Homo sapiens: one gene and its partners. The protein of the gene in region 1 binds, or shares a complex with, the protein of each later gene. Each region holds a gene or a part of one and is shown on either strand. Other genes may lie near its edges.

Evidence for each region.
Region 2: ACTR2 (region 1) and ARPC1B share a complex: the UniProt entries of both Homo sapiens proteins name them as parts of the arp2/3 complex.
Region 3: ACTR2 (region 1) and ARPC3 share a complex: the UniProt entries of both Homo sapiens proteins name them as parts of the arp2/3 complex.
Region 4: ACTR2 (region 1) and ARPC5 share a complex: the UniProt entries of both Homo sapiens proteins name them as parts of the arp2/3 complex.

Annotation. Positions count from the first base shown.
Region 1 is NC_000002.12:65,265,786-65,271,756, reverse strand, and holds the end of ACTR2 (actin-related protein 2), read right to left. Parts: intron 3,194-5,971; coding exon 3,023-3,193; 3' UTR 504-3,022; downstream 1-503. UniProt on the Homo sapiens protein: ATP-binding component of the Arp2/3 complex, a multiprotein complex that mediates actin polymerization upon stimulation by nucleation-promoting factor (NPF).
Region 2 is NC_000007.14:99,391,682-99,395,316, reverse strand, and holds the end of ARPC1B (actin-related protein 2/3 complex subunit 1B), read right to left. Parts: intron 2,647-3,635; coding exon 2,441-2,646; intron 1,289-2,440; coding exon 1,198-1,288; intron 867-1,197; coding exon 828-866; 3' UTR 501-827; downstream 1-500. UniProt on the Homo sapiens protein: Component of the Arp2/3 complex, a multiprotein complex that mediates actin polymerization upon stimulation by nucleation-promoting factor (NPF).
Region 3 is NC_000012.12:110,434,286-110,440,348, forward strand, and holds the end of ARPC3 (actin-related protein 2/3 complex subunit 3), read right to left. Parts: coding exon 6,027-6,063; intron 2,868-6,026; coding exon 2,799-2,867; intron 2,399-2,798; coding exon 2,272-2,398; intron 1,920-2,271; coding exon 1,825-1,919; intron 933-1,824; coding exon 870-932; 3' UTR 538-869; downstream 1-537. UniProt on the Homo sapiens protein: Component of the Arp2/3 complex, a multiprotein complex that mediates actin polymerization upon stimulation by nucleation-promoting factor (NPF).
Region 4 is NC_000001.11:183,620,325-183,625,810, reverse strand, and holds the end of ARPC5 (actin-related protein 2/3 complex subunit 5), read left to right. Parts: 3' UTR 1-4,965; downstream 4,966-5,486. UniProt on the Homo sapiens protein: Component of the Arp2/3 complex, a multiprotein complex that mediates actin polymerization upon stimulation by nucleation-promoting factor (NPF).

The DNA of each region.
Region 1 (5,971 bases):
GGGACTCCGGCCCTGAAGCGGGCAATGAGGTTTGCACATACAAGTCCACGAAGAAGGAAAGGCAAAAATACTCTCTCTACTCTCCAGCCCTCATCCTCAAGGCTAGTATAAAACAAGAAAAGGTCAGTTAAATGTATTTTCATCCTTCTTTTATTTGTTAAAAATAATATGCCTAAAAGTCTGCAGATGAGCTAATATGTCCTTGAAAGGGGGCATGTTACATACAGGTCTCTTTAGCATTTCTAATTCTGTGAAAGCCACCTTAAATCTTTTGGGAGACAAAACAGTTTGTTGGAAGAAAACAGCCTCTGATGTAGCTATAAATCGCTATTCTATTTTCTTATGTATTTATAAAATCATACCAGAAATAATGAGTTGTTTTGTCAATAATAGAACACTGACATGAACTTGACCTAACAACTAGCATAAACTGTCAATTCATCTTGCATTAACAAGAAAATGAAACAAGAAATAACTATTAGAAAGAAATGACAAAATTCAAATTGACTTTGAAAAAATCTGATTTTATTTTCTCAATCAAAATGAAGTATTTCATGTTAATTTAGACTGTTTAGCTTTCCACTGATATCTCAAGATACTTTCCAGATATTAACAGTACTCAGAACTGTGTAAAAGTTAACCACCAAAACCATGTTTTAAAGAAAAAAGTTTAAATGTAAGACTAATGTCTTGGGGACTTTACTAAATGTATTTCTAAAAAAACCCTTCTCAAATGTAGAAGTATTGGCAATTCTAATTTAAAAATTTTAAATTTTTAATTATTGGAAATTTAAGTAGCAATAGTTTCAAGAGCTAAGAATCAGATTGCTTTTTAAAACAGAATTTTTTTTTTTTCCTGAGGGACTCATACTTGACAACTCCAGTTAAACATAATACTCCACCCAAATCCCAAATTTAAATGCATTATGTCACCCTGGAATAGTAAAATTATAAAATGGTATTTCTAAATTATAATATATATACATAATGCACCATTTTAACTGTCACATTTACCAGCAGAATTATGAAATCAAAAACAAATTCTACATTCAAGGGACAAACGATAAATGCTCTTTCATTGTTTTAAGAGTCCATTCCATTCTTTGTTGTTTTCTACTCCCATATTTTAAAATTATGACCAAAGGAGCCTGAAGGCCAAGTCAATCCCATTTCCCTGAACCCAACTGCCAGTAGGTACGGGCCCTACATACGCGTCCTTTAACAAGCCCCGTTCTCAAAAGGCTGGGGGTATTTATATAAGAACTTATTCCAAAGTGACTCTAAGATCCATGTTCCCAAGATCTAGTACGGGCTATTCAGGGTTCTGAGGCATGTCCAGCATGCAGGCAAACTTATCTGTTCAAATTGAGGTAAAACAGACAAAAAACACTTAATATTAACAGAAGCTACATAATTAAAACTAACCTTCTGCTGCTTATTTAAGCTAATGATGTATTCTTACCAAACAGAGACCCTCAAGTCAATCATTTCTTTTGATTTTAGTTACCACCCCCAAATTAAGCCTCTTCTTTCAAAGCTATTATTAGTTAAAAAAAAGTTTTAAAATGAAGAAAAATATTTTTTCCAGAACTTGTATTTTGTAATTAGTGTGATGCAATTTCTTTTTATTTTTCAAACTTAGAAATAACTCATGTATGGTACTATTTGGTATTTTTTTCAGATACCAAGGAATACCGACAGGATTCATAAATAGGATTTTCTGACACTGGCAGGAAAGTCTGCTAACGTTTACAAAATACCAAAGACTCTTCTTTCAAGCTTCAAAGATGGCTGAGAATTAACAGTTATGATTAGTTTTTCAGTACAAATAAAAAAATTAAATCTTGATTTTTTTGGCCAACATTTTAAACAGTCAAATTTTACTGTATTTCCAGGTTTCAAATCAAAACAAACAAAACAACTAATGAAAATTACCCAATTGGCAACAAGTCCTGTATTCCAATGTTATTTTTAAACCACCAATTATAACCTACTGCCAGTAATTATTTGTAAGTACCTGCTTGTTTTATTAAGCACTGGTCAGTTATATAAAAGAATAATTTGCAAGAATGATACTTGGCAATGGGTTACCTTAATGCTTCTGGAATAAACAGAAGCATTAACAAAACACCAGATCTTAAGCTCTTTTAAATCTGTAATTCGAATTACCCAAAGGATTTTTAAATGTTACTTTTCCATTGAAGGACTGTAGGGAGTCTAATCCCAGCTAACATGGTTGATTTTAAAAAACAAATAAATCCCTAAGCCACATAGTAATGGAATACTACACTTGCTTTTTATATCATATGGAAACAGCTCCAGGCAGAGCACAAGTAGAAGAAAACCTGCCAAATCAAAGTACTGTAAATAAAGTTCCTCTACGTACTCCAGTTGACAAAACCTCAAAAATAAAAATCAGAAGACCACCCATTGTTACCCTCCCCCCCGCAACAAAACCCACCCAAAACACTTTAGTTCTGAACCTAACATTTCCCTAAGAAGTTCACAGGAGAAGCTTTAAGGTACTTAAAGCTGCAGCAGTACAGTTGAAAGCGCCACATTACAGAGGAAATGCCCTAAAGGGTTCAGCAGCTGCCCACCCATCCCGAACCACCCCCCATCCCAGTAATATGTAAAAGCTCCTGTTAAAGTTTTTTTTGTTTTATGCTAATAAAGGCATACCACCTAGTGTGCTAAAGACTACGACTAGCAGCATTAGAGCAGTAAAGTGAAAATAGGAAGCCTATAGGAATGATCTAAATGCCTACTTAGAAGAAACAAAGCAGCAGACAGAATCCTTAGCCCTCTAGTCTATGTAGGGAAGCAGTTGAATTAAACTCAGATTTACCCACATTAACAAAAATTTAACAAAGCTTCCCCAAGACACCAGAATAAAACTTGACCTTTCCAGTCAAAGGGCAGAGAGAGGCCTCTTCCATGTCCTGGAGTTGAATGAGTTCAAAGATTGGCAATAAAGGAAAAAAGAAAGCATTACGGGTATGACGGGAACAAGCTTTGGAGTTTATCGAACAGTCACACCAAGTTTCTCTAGCACACGGACACCCTTTTCTTGGTACTCTTGTCGGGTCATCCAAAAGTTGTCTTTGTCTTTCATGATATCCGCTAGAACTGCACCACCCAGGAATACCATGTGCTTTCTGCGGGGTGGGTCTTCAATGCGGATCTTAAATTTCTAAAGGAGAAAGAAAGGATAATGAAATGGTACATGTGCACAGTGCTTTCTGCTTTATGAAAATGGCTTTTTAAATATATGCTCTCCCTCAAACTTGCAACAGTCCTGTAATATAAGTAGAACGTAATATTTGGTACCTGAGGTACAGAAACATTTAGTAATTTGCCCAAAGCTCATGTTTAGGAGACCACACATCCATCCCAGCATGCTTGGAACAGTCCTGATTTACACGTGGTGTCCCATCATTATTAATACCACCCTTTCCATTCTTGAGTGTCCTAATTTGATCAGTAAATTACATGACTTAACACCCTACTGAGAGACCAAACATCCAAGACATAATTAGAGCAAATTTCCCATCCAATGGCAGATGACCACTTGGGAAAGTCACTTTGCTGTCAAGCAAAGTCTGGATAAGAGGACTTGCATGGCTGGGTGTGGTGGCTCAAGTGTAATCCCAGCACTTTGGGAGGCCAAGGCGGGCGGATCACGAGGTCAGGAGATCGAGACCATCCTGGCTAACACAGTGAAACCCCGTCTCTACTAAAAATACAAAAAAATTAGCCGGGCATGGTAGTGGGTGCCTGTAGTCCCAGCTACTCGGGAGGCTGAGGCAGGAGAATGACGTAAACCTGGGAGGTGGAGCTTGCAGTGAGCCCAGAGACTCAATCTCAAAAAAAAAAAAAAAAAAAAAAAAAAAAGAGGACTTGCATGACTTCTTCAAGGTCTCATACTGTTATGATTCTAGTCCAGGGCAATAGAGTAAAACTGAAGTTCTTTTCTTTTAAGCAAAGCTTACTTTCTATTGTCTCAAAATCAAATGAAATGTTCTTAAAATAAACAAGGCCAAATATGGTCAAAACAAATCATCAGGATGTTATGAGAAAATGAACACAGTAACCAAAATTAAAGGCAATTGGGAAAAGTTTTATACTCTGTAGCTACTATTAAGTGTCTAGGAAGGACACATCCTTATCTTTATGGTTGGTCAACACCTGAAAGAGAAACCTTAAAATGACATAGCAAGTTTTTCATTTACAGTATCACGATCTGCAAAAAAGACCCAATGTAACTATGTCATTCTAAATCATTTGTATATTTATGTCACATAAATGAACTGTAAGGGTTCTAACAATCCAAGATAAAGAAAAACATCAGTTTATTTACCAATTCTGAGACTGTTTTAATTGTTCCTTTTACTTTCTTGCTCTTACATAGGGGTCAGCAAACTTTTTTTGTGAAGGGCCAGATACTTGAGGCTTTGTAGGCGTGACAAGTACCCAACCCCACATGTAGCTAGAAGGTGCCCACAGACAATATGTGACAACAGGTAACATTATGTAAACAAATGGGCTTGGCTGTGTTCCAATAAAACTTAAAAAAAACAAACAAACCAGTTTTGGCATAAGGGCTATAGATGACCACCTCTACTCTAAGGGAAACTTAGCTAGCCCCTGAAGACACTGCTTCTGTAAATACCTCAACTGCTTTACTGTTTCTCTCTCACACACTACCTTAACCCTGGAGGTTTGGTAATATGAGTTATTGCTCTTCATTGCTGCTTCTATCTCGCTCATCCCTAAAACTCCATAGCCCCACTGAAACTCATTCTATCAGATCATTCCATCTACCACTCCCTCCTTGCTGAACTCATCTACAGATTCCTACAGACAAATTGCACCTGCTGTCAAGCAGCTGAACAAGATAGGAAAGAAACAAAACATCTTGCTATAATGTATCACTAACCTCAACTGAGCCCTTCCTGCTGCATGGCAATCCTATTACATTTCTCTATTCTCGCTTCCATTCTCCAAAACAACCATTTCAACCTCCTCCTCTATTCTAAAACTCTACCATCCCTCCCCTCCTCTCAGTGCCTCCTAACTGGTCTCTCTATGCCCACCTTTGTTCCCTCTTCCCCCAAGAGTCTATTCACCACACCAGACTTAATGATCCTTTAAAAATATACATCAGATCCTATCATTTCTCTGCTTAAACCGCCCCCACACCCAAGACTTTCCATTTCACCAGGAGTCAAGCCAAACCCTTTACCATGGCTGAACAAGACCTGCCCTCCTGCTACCCTTCTGACCTCATATCCCACCTGCCCCCCTCCCTTGCTCACTCTGCTCCAGCCACACTGGCACACTCCCACCAACCTGGGGCTTTTGCATTTTTCCTGCCTGGAAGATTCTTCCCCCAGACAGTCACAAGGCTCACTCCTCTCACGCTCAACTTAGGTCTCTGATCAAAAGTCACTTCATCCAAAAGGCCTTTCCTGATCACAGTTTATGAAGGAGCACACTACCTCCCCAACCACTAACATTTTCCAGCTCTTCACCTTACTTTTCTTCATATCACTTATTACCACTAATACATTATTTAGACTAAAAGCAGGGATTCTGTTTTCATTGTTTTGTTTGTCCCCGGCACCTAGACCTATGTCTGGCACCCAGGAGTTCAAGAAATGTTTGCTGAATAAATGATCACCTGAGATTAATTATAAATTATATGTAAAACTCAATAAAATCAGAAAAATAAGTGAAGTACTTAGACAGTATGGCTCCTTTCCAGTCTGTTAATCTGTTTAATGTATGTGAGCCCATACTCAATTTAATTTCAACAATGAGTCATATATGAAAGATGTAACATACAGTACTCTGTAATACATAATCTCATTATCTAAAACAGTTGATCAAAGTCAGTGAGACAAAGCTCAGAGATTAACTCAGGATTAGATAACTCTTGGTTAAGTATACAGCACATACTGTATACTTC
Region 2 (3,635 bases), on another chromosome or scaffold:
TAACCAGGCTTGGTGGTGTATGCCTGTAATCCCAGCTACTTGGGAGGCTGAGGCAGGAGAATCGCTTGATCCCAGGAAGGCAGAGGTGGCAGTGAGCTGAGAACGCACAACTGCACTCCAGCCTGGGTGACGAGCAAAACTCCATCTCAAAACAAAAGTTCCACAACCAGCCTGGAGTGTGTAGCCCCTTTGTCCAGGAATTTGACTAGTCAATCAGTGACACCTGGTACTGGCAGTTTTGGGAGTGGCAGCCCAGGATGGACAGCAGTGGGGAGGGAACCATTTGGCATAAGGCCGTTGGGCTTCAGGATCAATTTTGTTGGCAAGCAGTAAAAATAAGCTATCTACCTATGGCCGTGCAAACACCAATCTCTCCCTGGAGTCCCAGCTACTTGGGAGGCTGAGGCAGAAGGATTGCTCCCACGAGTTCTAGTGCAGCCTGGAAAACTTAGCAAGACCCCAAGGAAATAACAAAAAACCTCTCCTTCCACATAGGCAAGCATGTCCATAATTACTTTTTTTTTTTTTTTTTTTTTTACACAGTTGCATTTTATTACCTCCACATTTTGAAGCAGTTCATGACCAGCATAGTGCTTTGGGGGCATTTTTTTTTTTTTTCAATAAATGAAAGCATTTAAGAAAAAGGCACGTATTCCTTGAATAGGTAAGAAAAGCTCCCCATCTGTCCCCTCCCTTTTTGAGGGAGCAGCCCCTATGGGAACTCGTATTGGTACCCCAGAAACATTCAGCAAAGCAACCATTAGCCTCCCTGACCCCTCTCCCCGCTTCCCCAGCAGCTAGGATGAAGGCAACATATTCCTCACAGGTCATTTGATCTTGAGGTCCTTCAAGGCTGACTCCAAGCTCTGCAGGGAGGCAGAACGGACAGGCTGGTTCTCAGCTGTCCTGCAGGCACCCCACTCCCAGGGACCTGATCACCCATCTCAGCCCCAGCACAGCAGAGGGCAGAGAACCTGCAGTTTTGGAGTCTGTCAGCTGGGTTGGAATCCCGGCCCTGAAGACGGGTGCCCCAGTGAGCACCAAGGCCCAGATGTCAAGGGGCCGCCCCCACCCCTCATCCCCATGCAGTGCCATCTCTGCAGGAGTGAAGGATGGGGGTCATCTCCAGGGAGTGGGGATGGGGGGAAAGGGTTGACCTGGGAGGCATGGCGGGAAGCCAGGAGGGGCAAGCCTCACCTTCACATCCCAGATACTCATGCCGCCATCCATGCCAGTGGTGCAGAACTGCGAGCACTTGGCCTTGCCGCCGCTGAGCACCGAGATCTGGCTGCAAAGAGGAAGAGGAGCTTATGAATTCAACCTGTGCTGGCGCTGGGCTCAGGCCCACCCTGTCCACCAGGCGCTCCCAGACTTCTTGGGGAGCGGGCTTTAGTGAGAAGTACCGAGGGGGTGTAGTGGGCTTAGAAGTCAGTTCTGCCTTGGGGACAGTGGCATGCGAGGTGCAGGCAAATGGGACAGGACACTCAAGTCCTGGGAGGCAGGAAAGACACGTGTGTCTGCGGAGTGTACACAGTGCCAGCAGTGCAGCTGGACAGGACAAAAAAGGAGATGGGGGTGGGGGCAGCCAGGGACTAAGCTGATAGCTGGACAAAGGTGTTTCATCTGAGGAAGCCATCGGATCTGGCGGACACAGGAGGTTTTACAGACCGAAGGGCTTGGCCAGTCTTGCCATACAGCTCCCGCTCCCTCTGATTCGCCGCGGGGTGGACACGTGTGGCTGGCAGCTTTTGGGCTTTGAAGAGCCTCTTCCCCATCCCACCCTAGATCCATAGAAGGCTGCGGAGAGACCCTCAGCTCCGCCCCCACCTCGCTAAGTGCTAGCAATAGACCCGCCCCAGCTGTGACCCCGCCCAGGAAGCCCGCTGGTCACTGCCTGGCCACCCCAGAGAACCGTAGGGGCCAGCCCTACGACAGTCCCCACCTAAGTCCCGGAAATGCAGAGCGAGGCTAGCTGCTCAGCCCCATCTGATGCTATTTTTATGCAACCTAAAGAGGTCGACCCCGTCTTATGTCGGTCGCACCGTGTCCCTCCCAGGCTCCACTAGCACCTGGGCTGCTATGGTGAGATCAAGATGGGCCCCGCCCACAACTAACGATGTTATTCCGCAGCGAGTCAAAGCCACTCCCTACCCTGGGCCCGCTACGCGACCTCTGCCGGCCTCCGCCCCACGCGGTTTTAGTACGGCGCCAAGGCCCCGCCCACAAATCGGCCCCGTCCCCTCGTGTCCGGGCCCGCCGCTCATCAGACGCCGTTCCGGCGCAGCGAGTTGAGGGCACGCCTACCCTCCCTCCGGGTCCCCAGTCCTCAAGGTCCCAGCACAATGCCCCAGGAGGAAGACTCCAGGCCCCTTCCTCACCCGACGCTGTTTCTGGGCGAGCCGAGGCCCCGCCCACCCGCCGGCCCGGCTCCCGCTCTCACCTGACGCTGTTCTTGTGCAGCGAGTCTAGGCCCGCGCCCGCAGCCGTGCCACCCTCGGAGCTCGCCTTCTTGTCCAGGTTCTGGAAGCGCTCGCGGGCCGTCAAGCCACGCTGCGAGCTCTGCTTAGGAACGTCCAGCCGCCCGCCGAAGCTCAGCATCCCCGCGGCGGCGTCATAGGTGAACAGCACCGGGAAGCAGTCGTGGCCCTGCGCGGAGGGCGGGGGCCATTGGAGCGCCGCGGAGGGGAAACCGAGGCCGGAGGGAAGGCCAGGCGGGCGTCTGGCCGCCCGGGAGGCAGATGCCAGCTCAAGGATACAGACGGGCCACAGCGAGGGAGGCCCGAATTGCAGGTGTATCAAAACCGGGGGTGATGCTGGGGGCTGCCACCTCCCCCAGCAAGGCCAGCGTTGGGACTCCCTGGGAGCTCAGGCGCCTTCTGTCCTGCCCAGCCAGTTACACCTGCTCTAGGGGAGACCCCTGCAGCTGTTTGCTTTTCTAGGCAAAAAGCAAGCCTGACCTGGCCCTGGCACCCCCATTATGTTTGCAGAGGGGTGAAAAGGGACTTGACAGATGTGGGCGGAGGGGAGGGAGAGCAGTGCCCTTCCTGGACACCTGGAGGAACCGCACACCCCGAACTCTCGCCCTTTGCATTAGGCGTGGCCTTGCCATTGCACCTGCCAATAAAATGTGGGCAGAAATGTTAAGACCCAGGGCATGATTCCGCAGGTTCCGGCTCCCTCGTGGCATCTGGGACAGCATGCTGGGGACAGCTTCCATCAGAGCACCTCACAACACCCACACTGGACATAAAATGTGAGCAAGAAGTAAATATCTTTTTTTTTCTGTTTTTGAGATGGAGTCTCGGTGGCTCACCCTTGGCTCACTGCAACTTCTGCCTCTGGGTTCAAGCAATTCTCCTGCCTCAGCCTCCCGAGCAGCTGGGACCATGGGCGCCCACCACCACACCCGGCTAATTTTTGTATTTTTAGTAGAGATGGGGTTTTGCCATGTTGGCCAGGTTGGTCTTGAACCCCTGACCTCAGGTGATCTGCCCTCCTTGGCCTCCCAAATTGCTGGGATTACAGGTGTGAGCCACCGGGCCTGGCTCTTTTTTTTTTTTTTTTGAGACAGGTTTTGTGTCGCCGAGGCTGAAGTGCAGAGGTACGACCATAGCTCAGTTCAGAAGCCTCGACCT
Region 3 (6,063 bases), on another chromosome or scaffold:
AGCCATCGCACCCGGCCCGGCTGGTTTTTGTATTTTTAGTAGAGACCAGGTTTCTCCGTGTTAGTCAGGCTAGTCTCAAACTCCCGACCTCAGGTGATCTGCCCGCCTGGGCCTCCCAAAGTGCTGGGATTACAGGCGTGATCCACTGCGCCTGGCCATATTAGTATATTTTATTTCATACATATACACAGAGAGAAAAAAAAGAAAAAGAGAAAAGAAAGCACTGATATATGCTCTAACATGGATGAATTAGAAAACATTAAGTCAAAGAAGCTAGACATAAAAGGCCACATGTTGTATAAAAAATTCAATTTACATGAATTATCCAGAATAAGCAAATCCATAGAGACAGAAAGTAGATTAATACTGGGAGGAGGGGTGGGAGGGACAGGGGGCTTGGGGAGGAATGTGGGGTGGGGTGGCTGCTAAAGAGTGCAGGTTCACTACACCGGGGTGATGAAAATGCTCTGGATTTACTGGGGATGGTTGTAAAACTTCATGTATATACTAAAAAAAGTGAATTGTACACTTTAAAAGGGCATTATGGAATGTGAATTTTATCTCAAAACAAATTGTAAGTGAATGTCAAAGACTGGCAATAAAGTTTTTCTGACATGGAATGTTAGAAATTTCTTTATTATTACTTATTCTTATTAAGCGCCAGCTTTAATGCTGCAGAAAATTTCAAATCACCCTTGATAACCCACTTTCTTTTCTCCCACCCAAATTCTTGATCAAGAGTTTTTCAAGTAAAGACATGCTCTTCTCTCTTCTGTATAAAACTTTACGAAATAAAGGCAAAAGATTGTGTACATCTTGCTGGAAAATGCTGCCCAGGGCTCTGGAGACGGTGGCTGCCCGGGCTCCCTTCACTGTCCAGGTCCTGAAAGACTCTTGTTCATGAACTGTCTCTTCACAAAGCAAGTCCACCACTAACAAGAGAGAACAACACAGAATGAACAGCGGGGTCAAATTACAATAGAATTTGCATTTATTTAATAATAAAATTTCACATTAGTCTGGAATCTCTTATAAACTTTTTTTTTTTTTTTTTGAGACGGAGTCTCGCTCTGTCGCCCAGGCTGGAGTGCTGGAGTGCAGTGGTGTGATCTTGGCTCACTGCAAGCTCCGCCTCCTGGGTTCATGCCATTCTCCTGCCTTAGCCTCCCCAGTAGCTGGGACTACAGGCGCCTGCCACCACGCCTGGCTAATTTTTTGTATTTTTTAGTAGAGACGGGGTTTCACCATGTTAGCCAGGATGGTCTCAATCTCCTGACCTCATGATCCGCCTGCTTTGGCCTCCCAAAGTGCTGGGATTAGAGGCGTGAGCCACCGCGCCTGGCCATAAACCCTTTTTAGACAAAGTCTCACTCTGTCATTCAGGCTGGAGTGTAATGGCATGATCTTGGCTCACTGCAACCTCCACTTCCTGGGTTCAAGCGACTCTCTTGTCTCAGCCTCCTGAGTAGCTGAGATGACAGGTGCACACCATCATGCCTGGCTAATTTTTTGTATTTTCAGTAGAGATGGGGGTTTCACCATGTTGGCCAGGCTGGTCTCGAACTCCTGACCGCAAGTGATCCACTCGCCTCGGCCTCCCAAAGTGGTGGGATTACAGGCGTGAGCCACTGCGCCCGGCCTGCAATTCATTATTTAGTGTGATTCAGTGAACTCATATTACATACTAGACATATACTGGAAGTTAAGCAACATTGCAATGCAGAAATTAAAAATATTCTTGCAATGGAAGACCTTAGTGTGTTCAATGGTGGCTATGGGATAAAAGGTGATTTACCAATTAAGCAGGCAAGAAGAGGGTCTTACCTTGCTGGGTTTATCATTCTGAGGGTCGAAAACTTTCTCACAAAGTCTCAGTCCAGTCTCTTGCCTTAGCTGTTGTAAATAGGCTCTCATCACTTCTAAAACAGAACAATTTAAAAAAAACTGTATTTGCAAATACATCCCAAATGTACTGGTTGCAGCTCTGGATGCTCACTGTGGTAATACATTTTTATACATTTGAACAGGATACAAAATAGAAATGACAGTCCAGATAGTTTTATAACTATATTTGTTTTTGTTCAAAAGATTTTCTGCATGTCATCCTTGTTGCCAAGAATCGTTTGTGAGAGTGACTAATAAGATAATGTACTTCCTATGATTTCACTCTCAATCTGTACATGAATCAAGGCAAGAAAAAGAGGGGTGGTAGGAAGTCAAATGGAGAAAATCTTCTTGTGTCACAGAGTGAGGATAGAGACCTGTTCTTACCATCTTCCTGTTTGTTTGCAGGTTTGGCATAAATTGCGTTAAGTGGAAAACCAGGCTCTCCAGGAATGGGAAAATTAGTGATTCCCAGCGTATACATTTCTTTCTCACCTTGGCTTTTGGAATTGCACTGGAAAAAAAAATATATATATATATATACACACACACACACACACACACACACACACACACACACACACATATTTTACAGGGAAAAGAAGAATTCTATCCTTGGACCCCAGGTTAAGAACCCTTGAGTCAAGGGCTTAAAAGGAATTCCTCTGTCAAGATTTCTGTCTTGAGAAAATATATTCAAAGCCTTAAAACACCACTACTTTTATCTTTGTGTCAGTCAATTATACTACAAGTTCAGGTAACTAAATTCAAATTTTTCTCTTAAGTCCATGCTGTAAGTCAGAGGAAATATTTTCTACTTGTCTTTAAAGTCTCAACAAATCCCAGATGACTGGGAGGGTAAATGCCTCTCAGCAATTTGTTTTCCTGATATACAATCATCCAAGTTTAATTACCTTTTGCAGTTTCTTCAGACATTCAGAAATGTAGAGAGTTATATATATCAAGGTCCTATCAGCTTCATTCTACAGGGAGAAAAAGAAGACTTAAAAACAGTTATCAAAACATAACAATGATGTGCAATGTATGCATTCCATCTTTGTCTTCTGATTATCTGCTGAATGCAGTGGTAGGACAGCCACTATCACATCAAAACTCCCATTCTCCAAATGCACAGTCTCCTCAGTCTCCTTTTCCGTCTGCCCCTGGGAGGAAGGCACAAGCCCCACTCTGAGATGTGCAGCTGCTTTTTTTTTTTGAGACGGAGTCTTGCTCTGTTGCCCAGGCTGGAGTGCAGTGGCACAATCTCAGCTCACTGCAACCTCCACCTCCCAGGTTCAAGCAATTCTCCTGCCTCAGCCTCCCGAGTAGCTGGGATTACAGGTGCCCGCCACCACGCCTGGCTAATTTTTCTATTTTTAGTAGAGACGGGGTTTCACCATGTTGGCCAGGTTGGTCTCGAACTCCTGACCTCAAGTGATCTGTCCACCTCAGCCTCCCAAAGTGCTGGGATTACAGGCATGAGCCACCACGCTCGGCTGAGTGGCTGCTCTCTCTTGTTTTTCTCGGCTCCCCTTGCCCCAGGGTTCCCAAGGATCTGTGTCAACAGCCCCTCACTGTATAGGAAGAAGTAACAAAGCTGCCTGGAAAGCCTGAACTGCTCCATATGGTTGGCTAATTTTTAAAAACCCTTCCCTTCAGGGTCTCTGCCGAGAACAGAAATAGTCATTACTCTAAAGGAGGAAGCAACTATTTCACATTTGACTTGCTCCCAAAGAACTCCATAATCTCAATGTCTTGACCTAACCAAAAAGAAAATGTGGAGAAGACAAATGAATGTTGATCAAATGTGGTATGGACTTTGGGTCAAATTTTACACAAATTTAGGCCAGGTGCAGTGGCTTATGCCTGTAATCCCAGCACTTTGGGAGGTTGAGGTGGGTGGATTGCTTGAGCCCAGGAGTTTGAGACCAGCCTGGGCAACATGGCGAAACACCGTCTCTACTAAAAATACAAAAATTAGCCAGTCATGGTGGCGTGCGCCTGTAATCCCAGCTGCTAGGGAGGCTAAGGCCACAGAATCGCTTGAAGCCAGGAGGCAGAGGTTGTAATGAGTCAAGACTGTACCACTGCACTGCAGCCTGGGCAACAGAGCAAGACTCTGTCTCGAATTAAAAAAAAAAAAAAAAAGGCCGGGTGCGGTGGCCCACACCTGTAATCCCAACACTTTGGAAGTCCAAGGTGGGTGTATCACGAGCTCAGGAGATCGAGACCATCCTGGCCAACGTGGTGAAACCCTGTCCCTACCAAAAAATACAAAAATTAGCTTGGCGTGGTGGCGCGTGCCTGTAATCCCAGCTACTTGGGAGGCTGAGGCAGGAGAACCACTTGAACCCGGGAGTCGAGGGTTGCACTGAGCCGAGATCACGCCATTGCACTCCAGCCTGGTGACAGAGCGGGACTCTGTCTCAAAACAAAAAAACAACAAAAAAATTACCCCCAAACCACACCATTTTCCTATATATTTTTTTTTTTTTGAGTGTTTCACTTTTGCTGCCCAGGCTGGAGTGCAATGGCGTGATATTGGCTCACCGCAACCTCTGCCTCCTGGGTTCAAGTGATTCTCCTGCCTCAGCCTCCCAAGTAGCTGGGATTACAGGCACGCACCACCACGCCCAGTTAATTTTGTATTTTTAGTAGAGACGGGGTTTCCCCATGTTGGTCAGGCTGGTCTCAAGCTCCCGACCTCAGGTGATCCGCCCGCCTTGGCCTCCCAAATTACGGGCAGAGGCACTGCGCCCAGCCACATTTCCCTATTTTTAAGACAATATAGTATCTGGGAACAAATGAAATGTGGCAGAGTTTTTTGTTTTTTTTTTGAGACAGTCTTGCTCTGTCGCCCAGGCTGGGTGCAGTGGTGTGATCTCGGCTCACTGCAACCATCACCTCCTGGGTTCAAGCAATTCTTGTGCTTCAGCCTCCCGAGTAGCTGGGATTACAGGCATGCACTACTACACCTGGCTAATTTTTGTATTTTTGGTAGAGATGGGGTTTCGCTTTGTTGGCCAGGCTGGTCTCAAACTCCTGGCATCATGTGATCCACCCGCCTCAGCCTCCCAAGTGTTGGGATTACAGGCGTGAGCCACCATGCACTAATTTTTCTATTTTTTGTAGAGACGGGGGTTCGCCATGTTGCCCAGGCTGGTCTCGAACTCCTGAACTCAAGCAATGTGCCCAGAGAATTGTAACATTTATAACTGTTACAAACTTAACCCACACATGAGATATAGAAAACATTCTATTACCATCACAGAATGTTTAGACTACAATTTGTACACCAAGAGTCTACAAATAAATAATTCACAACCTGTTTGATTCCAGAAGTTCAGAGTTTGGCAAGGAGGGGCTGAAATTCCATTTTAGGGCCGGGAGCGGTGGCTCACGCCTGTAATCCCAGCACACTGAGAGGCTGAGGTGAGCGGATCATGAGGTCAGGAGATCGAGACACCATCCTGCCTAACATTGTGAAACCCCGTCTCTACTAAAAATACAAAAAATTAGCCAGGTGTGGTGGTGCATGCCTGTAGTTCCAGCTACCTGGGAGGCTGAGGCAGGAGGACTGTCTGAGCCCAGGAGGTTGACGGTATAGTGAGCTGTGATTGTGCCACTGCACTCTAGCCTGGGCGACGGAGCAAGACCCTGTCTCAAAACAAAACAAAAGGCTGGCACATAGTAGGTGCTGCTTAACTAATGTTGAATAAATAAAGATACTTCTAGCAAGGGGTTGGCAAACTTTCTCTGTAAAAGGCAGGCAGTATTTTTAGGTTTTGTGGGCCATACAGTCTTTGTCACAACTACTCAATTCTGCTGTTTTGGTGTGAAAGTAACTATAGATAATATAGAAACAAATGGTTGTGGCTGTGTTCCAATAAAGGTTTATTCATAAAAAGGGGCAGTGGGCCAAATGTGGCCCTCAGGTTAGAGTTTGCCAACCCCTGGTATAGAATTTGGAGGAAAAAAAAAGAAACTAATATTTATACAAAAGCTAACATTAAGCACTGCTCTCGAATTTAAAAATTACATGCTGATTTCATTTTATTTTCTCCTCACAGCAATCTGGATAGCAAGGTTGGTATTATCCCTATGAGAAAACTAAGTTAAATATTAAAAGCTCCGTAATTTACCTTAATTTCATAGTTTTTGAAGAAGACATTGGCCTTG
Region 4 (5,486 bases), on another chromosome or scaffold:
CTGACTAGATTCCCACTTTAAAACACTTCCAGGCAATTCAGGGTCCTATGGGTGAAGATAAGCTAAGCAATAGGTATTATTCTTAAATATTACTTAGAGATGGGGACTTGCTATGCTGCCCAGGCTGGAGTGCAGTGGCTGTTCACAGGTGTGATCATAGTGCACTGAGGCCTCAAACTCCTGGCTTCAAGCAGTCCTGCCTCAGCCTCCCGAAAAGGTGGAACTACAGGCACATGCCACTGTGCCTTAGCCAATAGGTATTAGAGGTAGTCAAGTAGGTATAGCATAACCAATTACAAACTTTAAAATCAAATGATACTGAATGCTTTTTCATAAAATCCTTCTTAACATCACTTTCATAACTGAAGCGTTTGGAAAAATTCTGGAGTTCATATTTGTTCACAAGAATGGGTGGGTGTATTTAGAATCTGCCAGTCTATCAGCTTTACTGAGGGGAGATACTAAAAATATTTAACAAGTAGTATAATATAGAGACCGAGTCAAAATGGATACTAGCTGGAAACAACTGGTTCAACTGTTGCCTCCTGACTAAATGTCAGCCCAGGGTATAGTAACCATGACACAGTACTATCCTTGGTGAAGAGTTGGGAATAGGATTAATTGCGGAAAAAATATATATAAATGCCATAGGACACTTTTAGCACAAAAGTAGTTGTTTACCTCCCATTCTCCTCCTTTAATCTCAGTGCTTTTACTATTTGGTTTCTTTTTTGGCATTTTACAAAAGGGAAGAAATGGAAAACATACCCCTTCTTGGTCATTGGGTAACAGCACCATTTCGGTAACAGTCATACTTGATGACAAGTATGATGATATTTTAAGGACATGAACATGGGTGAAATCAATGTGTAGATGGTACAAATTAACCGAATTCTTTTTAAAGCATTTCCTGTGGATCCCAGGATCATGAGGACATAACAGAAGAATAAGGTCTGAATCTTGTTCACCAGTTTGCTCTCAGCCTAATTGGGAAGTAAGGTTAAGCACCTGAAAATTATGTCATACAAAAAAAAAGAGAATTAACGTCATACAATTTAGCATTTGACTGTAAATGCAGTTAGTCAATGTTGGGAGAACAACAAAATCAGGGTGGATCAGAGTATTTAAAGTGAGACATTAATTTGAACTAATCCTTTGGAGGGGCAGAAAGGACAAACGGTCCAAGTGAAATGAACAGAGTAGAAAGAGAAAGTTAAAAGTGGGTTTAATAGTCACTGTTCTTGCAGTTTTAATGTTTTTTGTTTTGTTTTGTTTTGTTTTGTTTTGTTTTGTTTTTTTTGAGACAGAGTCTCGCTCTGTGGCCCAGGCGGGAGTGCAGTGGCGCGATCTCGGCTCACTGCAAGCTCTGCCTCCTGGGTTCACGCCATTCTCCTGCCTCAGCCTCCCAAGTAGCTGGGACTACAGGCGCCCGCCACCACGCCCGGCTAATTTTTTGTATTTTTAGTAGAGACGGGGTTTCATTCACCGTGTTAGCCAGGATGGTCTCGATCTCCTGACCTCGTGATCCGCCCACCTCGGCCTCCCAAAGTGCTGGGATTACATGCGTGAGCCACCGCGCCCAGCTGCAGTTTTAATGTTTTTAACATAAGAATTCTAGATGGTGCAAATTATTAACAGGATCAGAAACTATCTCCGTGATAGATTCAAGAAAGTAAAATTATAGGAAATCATAATGTTTTATTAGCTGAAATAGACATTGATGATCACTTAGTTTAACCCCATGTATAAAGGTAAAAAAGAAAATTAATTAATTAATTTTTTTTTTTTGAGATGGAGTCTTGCTCTGTTGCTCAGGCTGGAGTGCAATGGCACAATCTCGGCTCACTGCAGCCTCCACCTCCCAGGCTCAAGCGATTCTCCTGCCTCAGCCTCCTGAGTAGCTCGGATTACAGGCACGCATCACCGTGCCCAGCTAATTTTTGTATTTTTAGGAGAGATGGGGTTTCACCATGTTGCCCAGGCTGGTCTTGAACTCCTGACCTCAGGTGATCCACCCTCCTCCGCCTCCCAAAGCACTGGGATTACAGGCGTGACCACCGCGCCCAGCCAGATTGATTAATTTTTAGATACACAATTTTTCCTTTAGATTTACAACTAACATCCCCTTACAGACAAAATATGTTAAAAGCACCAAAATAATTGAAAAACACACCCAATTAAGGAACAGACCAACGGCCTCTGTAGAACCAAGTGCCCTTAAACAAGGCTGCTTCTGTCCATATTCCTGCCGCGGGACCTCTGCCCCACTCCCTCTCCCCCTCACCCCAATGTCACTAGTACAATATGTGAAAACCCCAATGTGAAAACGTTCTGTGCAGGTGCCTCTTGTATGATTCCAGATATGGAGGAGGCCCGGGAAGCCCACAGAGGTACAGCATGTCATCTGCCTCAAGGTGGTGCTACTTCACCACATTGATGATCCAACCACAAGCAACATGGGACACAGCATTCACTTTAACATTTCTATTTTCCTTTATCATTTCTGTTACTTGAGTGTGTAAGAGTAATCAACATAAATAATCTATGTTTACATCTCTTATTTCTCTCTGAAACAGTTCCCTAGAATCCACACCACATGAAACACAAATTGAGTAGTGTATGACCCACCTGAATTCCAAAGCATTCTAAAACTCCCGTATTTTCCAGCCTAGCAGTTAGCTCCTGCTCTGCAAGACACACCCTCTTGACCTTGCTGCTAGACTGTATGGGCCCCCTGAAGTCATAGTAGCTGGCTCTTACTCATCCCCACATTCACTTGGCATAGTTGATGTTCAACAAATATCTCTTGGTTGCATAACATTGAACGAGCCAAGTCACCTAAGAAATCCTTAATTTATACACAGGTTCTTAGGGTACCTGAATAGGGCAACACATCAGAAGTACAAATTGAGAACTATACAAAGAGTAAAATAATTCTTGGGTTCAAATACCCTAGAGCCAATCAAGTTTAGTCACAAAGAATTTCAATTCACTTCAATGTGGACAGTTAAGAAGGGAATTTATCAGCCTTAGGTGGAAATCAGAGCCACCATGAGTACCACGTGCAGCCCCTATAGTGTTTAGCTTTGCCAGAAGTCACCAGAGAAAGTGGCTGAGGAACAGAATTCCAGCTCATATCTGGCTAACAGTGGCACTATGGGAGTTTATATGATCTGTTCATTATTCTGTGGCATCACCTTCTAAGAGCAGAGATGTGACCCAATACCCCTTGTTTTCCTTAAAGATAACCATTAAATTATATCCATGAATTTATATCACCGTCCTTGACTTTATACGTAGATTTTTCTAATTCTGTCAACCCTTAGGGTAATGAATAACTTAAATGGCCAATGCCTCTGAATAACATCATACTTCCTTTTGTTTCTCCAAAAATTGAATCAAGATGCCAGGGCAACTAAGATTTTCTTCAATTTGCTAAGTTAAAGGTCAGTGTATTCATTAGCCAATGGTTCTGTATTTTATTCATTTTAGTTTTTATTCGTTTTCAAATAATTTGTTCATATTGTTCAATATTCAAAAGGTAAGAAATATGTACTGTGGTAATTTTCCATTCCACCCTAGTTCCTCTTTTGACAACCAACTATTGTCACTTAATTCTTAGGCATCCTTCCAGATACAGTGTATGCATTTACAGGCAAATACCTATATAAGATTTTACCCCTTTGTGTACATAAATACTAACATACTATATATAGTGTTCTGTTCCTTGCTTTTTTCATTAACAGTATATTTTGGTGGTAATTTCCTATCAATACATAAAGAACTTCCTTATTCCCTTCAGAGGCATTTGAACCAGAGCAATTCCTTCTTGAATAGAAGCTGGGTAAAATAAGGCTGAGACCTACTGGGCTGCATTCCCAGATGGTTAAGGCATTCTAAGTCACAGGATGAGATAGGAGGTCAACACAAGATACCGGTCATAAAGACCTTGCTGATAAAACAGTTTGCAGTAAAGAAGCTGGCCAAAACCCACCAAATCCAAGATGGCAATGAAAGTGACCTCTGCCTCTGGCCATCCTCACCGCTACGCTCCCACCGGCACCATGACAGTTTACAAATGCCATGGCAACATCAGGAAGTTATCCTATATGGTCTAAAAAGGGGAGGCATGAATAATACACCCCTTGTTTAGCATATCATCAAGAAATAACCGTTAAAATGGGCAACCAGCAGCCCTCGGGGCTGCTCTGCCTATGGAGTAGCCATTCTTTATTCCTTTACTTTCTTAATAAACTTGCTTTAACTTTACAGACTGGCCTTGAATTCTTTCTTGTGTGAGATCCAAGAACGCTCACTTGGGGTCTGGATTGGGACCACTTTCCGATAACAATTTTATTTTTATGACTGCATAATAATTCTATTATATAAATAAATGTACCATAATTTACTTAACCATTTCCCTATTGATTTAGGTGGTTTCTGATCTTTTGCAGTTACAAACAGTGCTACAGTGAATAGCATTATACACAAGTCATTTTACATATGTTCAAGCCTATTTGTAGATCAATTCCTAAAAGTGAAAGTTAAGGTCAGTTGGAGGGCATTTAAGGGAGATATTGCTAAATTGCCTTTCTTAAAGGTTTTATCAATTATACTTTCTCCAGCCGTGTAGAAGAATGCATGTTTTCCCACCCCTTTACCTATTCTATGTGTTTGTCATAAAACATTTTTTAATCTTTTCAAATCTGATGTTTTAAAAATGGTATCATATATTTGCATTTCTCTTAATGTAAATGAGATTGCACATCTTTTCACATGCCTAATAGCCAGTTGTATTTTCTTTTCTATATTTTTGTATTTCTATATTTTCTTTGCCCTTTTGATGGTCTTTTTCTTACTGATTTGTAGGAGCTCTTTTCAACAGGAATGTCAAATATTTCTTGCATTTTGAGTTTCGCTTTATAATAGCTTTTACTATAAATAAAAAGGTTATTTTTATTTTTATCTAATTGAGTTTATTAATCTTTTCTTATGGCATTTAGAGTTCAAGTCATACTTAGATTTTCCTGGCTCCAAAATTTAAAAATAGAAATTTCATGAAGTGTTCTTGGATGTTTTTATGATTTTAAATTTTAGTTTTTTTATTTTAAAATATTCATATTTTTCTTTTCAACAATTGCTGCTTCAAATGTAAACTAGAAGAGATTAGTTGGTCCCCATATGGAAGTCTTATCCTAATATATTGACTTGGTTGGTTTTCTCAGGACTTGAGGGTGTTTTCTTAAGACAAACTACCCAAAGTATTTCGCACGTGAAAGCACAGTTTCACTGTCATTCAGGCAAGTATTTACATGCTAAGGGCTGCTTAAAATATTTAAAATACAATCCTTATCCTGTGGGATCTAGATTCTAGGTAAGATACACAAGCAATGAATAAAATTCAATAGTAAACAAGCTATAATAGAGAAGAGAGTAAATTCATGTACAATAACAGATGGGGAGCAATTACTTCTCCAAGAGAGAAT